2 separate regions of the Homo sapiens genome follow, and region 2 is reported to be linked to region 1. Evidence: microRNA targets listed by miRTarBase, many of them from high-throughput screens and not tested one by one. Region 1 holds a microRNA gene; the other region holds the end of a gene's coding sequence.

Region 1 (4,026 bases):
CAGGGAAAAGCTCTAGAACCGGTCACTGCCAGGGGCCTTCCACCCCCCCTTGCTGGGTCTCTGTGCCCACCCCACCTCCAGGGCTCATTCTCACTCAGGCCGGGAAATCCCTTCTTTCCTATCCCATGGGACCTGCAGCAGGACGCCCTAAGGAAGCACCCGGGGCGGAGGACTGGAGCACAGAGACAGGGTGCGGCACAGGCCAGCCAGGTTCCGAGGGGCAGAGGGAGAGCTGGGGCCATCAGAAGAGAGACCTAGCTACAGGGACACCTCACCAGGGCAGAAGTCCCCTTCTATCCTGAAATAAACAAGCCCCTCCTTTTTTCTGCAGGGGCTTGGAGAGCTTCTGTAGAGAAACACGGGCACCACACCCCAGAGGGAATTTATTGGGGGCTCCTCGCGGTTTGGTGATAGCTAACTGACAAGAAAAAAAAGGCCCAACCCACCCAAGGCAGTCCCCAGGGCACCCAGGCAGGCAGCACTGGTCACCATGTTCCTGCTGTGCAGTCAACTGGACCCGTCATCCTCCAGCTGCCAGCTTCAACCACACACATCCCCCACCCGGGCACTCCCTGGCTCAGACACCTAAAATGACTCCCACTGATCTGGGCTAAGTCCACCAACCCTTGCCTGAGGCTCCCTGGGGAGAAGCAGCCCCATCAGGGGCTGGCCCAGTGACCTGGGGCATGATAGCTCCCAGCTGGTCCCAAGTCGGCCACTGGTCTCCTGCTTGATTGCTGACCACCAGATTTCACATGGGTCCAGCCTGGCTGGCCAGGCTCTCCCCAGCTTTGACAGACTAGGTCCAGGCCTCCCAGCCTCAGTCTCTGCCATCTGGGGCATCCTTGGGAGCCCAGGCCTGTAGATTCAGAGCTGAGACACCTCCAGGCCCTGGGTGCCTCCATGGAAGGTGTGGCTGGTGGCGGAAGAGCCACAGTGACCCAGCTCTACCACTCACCAACCTCTTCAGCCAAGCCTTTCCTCTCAAAGCCTCAGGTTCCCCATCTATGAGATAACTATTTTAAAAAATTACAAGCCCCACAGGGCTGAGGTGGGAACTGTTGGGATTATATATGTAATGTCACCTGACACCCAGATGGAGAGCATAGGCCAGTTAGTCATAGCCCAGATCCAGGGACCCAGGAAGCTACATTACCAGTGTGTGGTGTGTGAAGGGGAACATTGGCCTCTGCTCCAGAACCTTCTAGGGGCAGGCCTGAAAATGCCCTCCAACTCCGAGCCCCACTAAGTATCCTCCTCTTGGAGCTGTTCGGAGATGACCCACTCCACAGCAGGCTACAGCTCCAGAGACGGTAGCCCCCCTGGAAACACCCAGGCTGACCTCAAGGGCAGCCCACCTGCCTGGAGCTGCCCCCTTCACAACCTGCAGCAGAAAAGACCAGGCCCTGTGCTGCCAGCCAAGGTCTCACCCCAAGCGTGTGCTGGGAGCCTGGCTGGGCCTTTCCAACCCACGGCACCATTCAGGATGGCCCTACAGATGGTTTCAGACTCCCCCACCTCTGCCCTGGGCGGCCCCATCTGCTGGCCCAGCTCAGATTGCTGGGCTCCCAGCTCTACCGTGGCCCCAGGCAGTGTAAGGCGATCTGGCTGCCCACCAGCGCTGGGCCCTCACACAGCAGCTGAGCCAGATGGGCTGGGGAGGCGGTGAGGAGGCCTTGAGGAGGAGCAGGCTGGGGCCCTGACACAAGGATGCAGGGGAGGCGGACGCAGCTGCGGGTCCTGCTTTTCCCATATTGGCACTGCACATGATTGCTCAGAGCGGAGAGACACAAGCAAAAATGTGCTAGTGCCAAAATCGGCCAAGCAGATGGCACTGGTGCGGGCTCTCTGGGGACACACTGGACGAGGGGCCTTGCATCCCTGCACCCTTGGAAGCAGCCTGTTTCCGACGTCTAGGAGCACTCAAGGCAGAAGTGGGTAAGGTGCTCCGGAGGCCCTCGTGGATCTGTCTCTGCTCTGTTTATGGCCCTTCGGTAATTCACTGACTGAGACTGTTCACAGTGAATTCTACCAGTGCCATACACAGAACAGGAGTCACACTCTGCGGCCTGCCGACCCTGCGGAGAGACCAGCGGCCCACGATGCCCGTTCCCTGCTCCTAGCCTGCCCACTCCCTTGGGGGCCCCCCAGCAGGCCCTCAGCAGCGGCTGCTACGGTCTCTACCCCCCACCCCATCCCACCTCTTCACAAGATCCACATGCCCCATCAGCCCAAGATGACCTTCAAGGAGACAGGGACAGTGCGGGAGAGGAGCTGACCTTCTGGCCTTGCAGAGGAGAAGACCACACCAAGGTGTCTCCTATCTCCACCTGAAGGCCCACATCCCTCCACATCACCCAGACTGCGCCTCCAGGCTGGGGAGGGAGTGGGTCAGGACCATCCATCTCCTTGCCAGAGTAACTCTGGCTCGGAGAGGCAAGCAGCTGGCCAGAGCCTCCTCTCTACCCAACCTGCCACAGGGGCAGTGACCAGTGGGACATCCAAGATGCCTCTCGTAGCCTCTGAGCCCAGACACCAGCAGCCCAGGCTCCTAGGCACTTTGGTCTCCATTATCCTCCACCCCCCAGCCTGCCCTGTGGCAGAAACAGAGCCCCAGGAACAAACCGAATCTGCTGCTCACCCCCACTCCCATCCCAAACCAGACCAGATTGGGCCAGACTGTGAACCGCCCAGGCTGGGCATCTCTGCTGCCGGCCTAGGATCAAGGCAGGAAAAGGCCAGGAAAGGAGGGCAGAAGAGAAGTCCTGCAGCCACCCAGGTGGCTTGGAGGGAGCCGGAGGCACGGATGCACTCTAGCAAGGGAGTGGCTCCTGGCTGGCTCTGGAGTGACTGCGGAGGAAAGCGGAGGCTCAGGAGCGAGGGAGGGGCTGGGAAGGTTGCATCAGTGGTTGCCAGAGCAGCTGCCTAGAGAGAAGTTGCTGTGGAGGCCCTGCCTCTGGTGTCACAGGCCCTGGGGAAGGACGGGAAGAAGGGAGAGGGTGGGAGGGAGGGTCTCTGGGGAGCTGGCACCCAGGGCAGGCAAGCTGGGGCCTCCGCAGAGTGGCCACTAGAGTCTCAGCCTACTCCAGGTCAGCGGTGGCCCAGAAGGCAGGGTGGCTAGAAAATATCCTGGAAGGGTCAGAGCAGGTGCCCTGGCCCAGAAACTATGCAGACCTCTTGGCGATGTTACCCCCAGGAACTACCTCCCGTGGACCTCAGAGCTCCATCTGGGTACCTTGGCCAAAGCCATCCGCTCTCCCCTAGACACTGCTTAATGCTCCACCCTTCCTGCTCCCGAGGACTCTTTGTCCTGCTCCCACACACCCCCACTACAGGGCTCTGCCCTTCTAGCTGGTCTATCTCCCCAGAGGACAATCCAGCTTGATGAGGTGGTGATCTCAGGAAGTCACTCCTCAGCCTTCTGCCTCAGTTTCCCTTACTACAATTTTCTGAACTCTACTAAGGAAGAGAGACCAGACTTCCCAGCCTTGGGTGGGGAGGGGAAGGGGTGATGGCAGGGTGTTAGCAAAGAGTATGGGGTGGGTAGTTATGAACATTGCTTAGGGTGTAGCCATAAGCATCACCCAAGGAGCCTGTTGAAATGTAGATTCTTGAGCCTGCCTGGAAATCTGCATTTTAATAGCACCCTGACAGCTCAGCATGGGGTGGGGGTGGGGGTGGGAAGATCTATTTTGAGAAATCTTTCCCAAGAAGCCTCACCCTGGGATAATTAAACAGAATGCAGAATTCTTCTTTCTTCTGGCTGGGCGCAGTGGCTCACACCTGTAATCCCAGCGCACTTTGGGAGACGGGAGGATCGCCTGAGGTTAGAAGCTCGAGACCAGCCTGGTTAGCATGGTGAAACCCCCGTCTCTACTAAAAATACAAAAATTAGCCAGGCGTGGTAGCAGGCGCCCGAAGCTGAGGCAGGAGAATCGCTTGAACCCGGGAGGTGGAGGTTGCAGTGAGCAGAGATCGCACCACTGCACTCCAGCCTGGGCAACAACAGAGCGAGATTCTGTCTCA
Region 2 (4,026 bases), not on the chromosome of region 1:
AGAAGACAGCAGTGACACTTCCCTAATAAGGGAATACCTTCAGGCCACACCTGTGTTCTGAAGCAATTCAAAGTTCAAGGAATATTGGGGGGTGGAGGTGGGGGCTGATATACATTTTGTCAGTGAGAATGGCAGCCAAACTACCCCAAAGTCTCAAGGGACTGAGAGACCTCAGAAAGGAACTACCACCAGGGCTGGATCTAGGCCTTCCTTTCAGAAGCCAAAGTCAGAAGAATCCAAGGAGGCCACAACTTCATGGCAAAGATGCCATAGCATTATTACCATCACAAAAGTCAACCAATGATATTTTCATTGAAATATCCGCACTGGATGATTCAACATATGAGGCAAAGAGGGATGTCTTTGGAGAAGGCACTTAATGTAGAACATTAGCAAATCTTACTGGTTGGCTACAACAAAAATGAGCTCATTCAACCTGGCTGGAGGCCTGTTAGGGCTGTTCCTTCTCACTGTGGCCTGACTAAAACCCAGTGGCATTAAGAAAGAGTCACGTTTCCCAAGTCTGGGGATGCCCCAGTGGGGTGGTGCTGCTCTCAAAAGCCCTGTGTCCCTAAACACATCCATCCTCACAAGATCAGTTTCCCCAAGTGCTGGTTCCAAAAATAGGCTCAGGGCTAGCAGAAATCATTCAGGAAGCTTCTTGAAGGCCCTCTCTTTATTTCTTAGTCTGACTTTCAGCTTGTCCCAGCTACTGTAAGCAGCTTCGGCTTCCCAAGGTCACTAGCAACTTCTGCTTTTGCTAATATCCTTGGTTTTCCATGGCACTGGTTGTGACCGTCTGTTAGACTAGTGGCCCCCCACTTAACTGCACCTCTACTTCACACCCTTTTCTTGAATCTGAGCTGGGCTTGTGACTTGTTTAGTAAGTAGAGGGCATACCCCAGCTTTCTTCTGATTAGAAAAAACCATCATCATCATCATCATCATCATCATCATCATCATCATCATCATCAATAGAGGGAAGTAGAAGGGACACTGTGACAATTCTGGACTTAAGTTTTCAGAAGGCCTGGCCATTTCTGCTTTTGAGCTCTTGGGAGCTCTGAGCTGCATGTGAGAGGTCTAGCTACCCTGCCAGCCAGGCCACTGAAAGAGACTACACGAAGAAGGAGAGACTCAGGACTGCAGGCAGAGAGAGAAGCCCAGCCATCCCAGTCTCTCCGCCGACCTGCTGACCACATGAGTGGCCACCTGCAGGCTGGCAGAAGAACAGCCCAGCTGAGCCCAGCTCAGATTGACTAACAGTTGGGGGCAGGTTTTTTTAAGCCACTAAAGTTTTGGGATAAGTTTGTCAGCAACATTTGGCGACCAAAAACACTGGTCATTCATAGACGCCTTTTTTCTAAGTACAAGACAATTATTCAAATGCAAAGAAAATATGGCAAACGTTTTCCCACCACAAACTTCTCAGTCAACAGCCGAACTATAATTGGTCAACGGCTGGAAAAAAGAAAAAAAAAAAAGCCACACCTCTTACCTTAATTCATAAATATCCATGATTCTTTTTCTATGACTCTTTAATGCCAGTGCAAAGGTCAACTTCTGACAGTCTCAGGCACTGGCTTAATTCTCATTTGGCCAAAAATAGAAGCCATCAAAATGAATTATCCACTACTGGATACATGATGGTAAATGAGATTGTTCTCACTTTTCTAGGTCGTTGTTACTTAATTTTCCCAAATCATTTCTTCTCATCATCCCCAACAATGAGGAAAAAAAAAATTAAACTGGTTAAGGGTATAAAAATAAAAATAAAAAAGCCTATTACTAGAATTTGAATCCCCATAATCTGCAAAATACAGCGCACAATTTAACTGCTTCCTCAATTTCAAACAAATTCTATAAAATATAATGTTGTCTACATTGTAGAGATGATTTCTTCTTATCTGAGGAAATGAGTAATTGGGAAGCAGGTATTGTTGAGTTAAAATACAGTGGTCTTTAAATGGTTTCAAATTTTGCTTATCAAAAGGTAGTCAACCACATTGCAAGCCTTCCAAATCCAAATTCTGTCTTCACATAAACTTTCTTGCGTCTGTTCTTGATCTTTTTAGGGAGAGGGTGAAAGTCCACATCTGGGGAAGAAATAAGTTAAGAGTTTTTAAGGAACATATATCTAAAAGCTTAACAAAGCATTAGGTGATTTTAAGGTAGACTTAGAGCTTTTAACTACACTACCCATTGAAGTGGAATTTCGACATGAAATACTGACACTGAGTTTTTTTTTTTTTTTTTTTTTTTTTGAGATGGAGTTTCACTCTTGTGGCCCAGGTGGAGTGCAATGGCGCGATCTTGGCACACTGCAACCGCTGCCTCTCCTGCCTCAGCCTCCTGAGTAGCTGGGATTATAGGCATGCACCACCATGCTCAGCTAATTTTCTATTTTTAGTAGAGACGGGTTGGTCTCTACTATTTTAGTTGGTCAGGCTGGTCTCGAACTCCTGACCTCAGGTGATCCGCCCACCTCAGCCTCCCAAAGTGCTGGGATTACAGGTATGAGCCACCATGCCCAGATAAGTTTCTAATTTATCATGAAAACATACATCATATACTTGGGTCACACTTAAAAAACGTAATTGATGGGGAGGCAACATATGGGAGAGATGAATTTCCAGCAGCAGAGCTGGAAGGGATGTCGGTGACCCAGTCGGCAGCCAAGTGGTCTAGCACCCCATGCCACACAGTTGGTCAGAGACTGACTGAAATGAGAACTCAGGCTTCCTGACTCCCAACCACCCAGTGCTGAGTCCCGATGCTTCCCAGATCCCTACAGATCATCCCCCAGCACAGCCTGGGCTAACCAACTCTAATAAAAATTGCAGGAACAGTGATACCTGCACTCTACCACCAGTATCAGCCATTTCTCTGGAATAAGTGCTAGCCTTGCCTCATGCAGAATTAATTCTGTGTTTGATTTTAATGTTTAATGAACTCTAAACTAAAACCATCTTGGAAAAAGAAGTACAGGGAGAGGAAAAAGGAGCCTGGTTTGTAAAACTCAATTATGGTACACTTTGCTAAAACATTCCCAAATTGCTTGCCTGCTTAAAAATACTGCCAATTATATAAACAATTAACCAATAGAGCACTTGCATTTAAATACCTATTTCTGTGCTGAAGTTTTGGCAGGTTTTCTCATCTGAAACTTTTCTGCTGTTGCATCAGGCCCACGTTTTCATAGACTCTAGCACTGTCTTCTCTCATTCTGGAGAGAAAAGAAAAAGAAAGACATTTACAAAAATGTAGACCACGCTGTTTAAGCTTACATGATATCTATAAAACACATACTACATTCTTTGGGCACCAGATATGGTACAGACACAGTTCCTGTGCCTAGGACCTGACATTCCCAGGGAGAGAAGAGATAGCCATACAGCAATATAATTACAGAGGCAGAAGTGAAATAACGCTGGGCATGGTGGCTCACGCCTGTAATCCCAGAACTTTGGGAGGCCCAGGTGGGTGGATCACGAGGTCAGGAGTTTGAGACCAGCCTGGCCAATATGGTGAACCCCGTCTCTACTAAAAATACAAAAATTATCCGGGTGTCATGGCACATGCCTGTAGTCCCAGCTGCTTGAGAGGCTGAGGCAGAAGAATCTCTTGAACTCGGGAGATGGAGGTTGCAGTGAGCAGAGATCGTGCCACTGCACTCCAGCCTGGGCGACAGAGCGAGACTCCATCTCAAAAAAACAACAGAAGTGCAATAAAAGCCTCAAGTCCTGGTGCTCCCTGGGGTCTGGCAGAAAGCAGGTTGTTTTAAGGAGGCCTGTAGGATGAGGCATTTGGATCGCACTGTGAAGAAAGGTTGGAAATGCACACATAGAATGAAATCCTATTAATTTCCAGTAGAGGGATCTGAACAGGCAAAAGCTCCAAGAAGGGAAAATACAGGAGCAGGCAGGCAGTGATGAGAGATCTATTTAGCCCCAGCTCAGGTTATGTGAAGGGCAATGGGTGGTTTAGGGCCTAGGACAGAGGGCCAAAGCATCAAGATCCCAGACT

Evidence for each region. Region 1 holds the annotated microRNA hsa-miR-183-5p (UAUGGCACUGGUAGAAUUCACU, at 2,021-2,042, opposite strand). A microRNA usually pairs through its seed, bases 2 to 8, with sites in the 3' UTR of a target mRNA and lowers its output. Matches are read on the target gene's strand: a 7mer-m8 pairs with bases 2 to 8, a 7mer-A1 pairs with bases 2 to 7 and ends in A, and an 8mer does both.
Region 2: miRTarBase lists PTPN11 as a target of hsa-miR-183-5p. Seed matches in the 3' UTR shown: 7mer-A1 at 1,399-1,405 and 7mer-m8 at 780-786.

What each region holds. Positions count from the first base shown.
Region 1 is chr7:129,772,947-129,776,972 of GRCh38, forward strand. MIR183 (microRNA 183) reads right to left here and starts at 2,068; the gene lies at 1,959-2,068. MIR96 (microRNA 96) reads right to left here and starts at 1,823; the gene lies at 1,746-1,823. RefSeq lists enhancers at 287-1,148, 3,992-4,026.
Region 2 is chr12:112,503,895-112,507,920 of GRCh38, reverse strand. It overlaps PTPN11 (protein tyrosine phosphatase non-receptor type 11), which reads right to left. Exons shown (of 16, transcript NM_002834.5): 15 at 3,125-3,226; 16 at 1-2,096. The coding sequence ends at 3,157. Among named protein-coding and RNA genes, the nearest start is that of PTPN11, 87 kb to the right of the region's middle.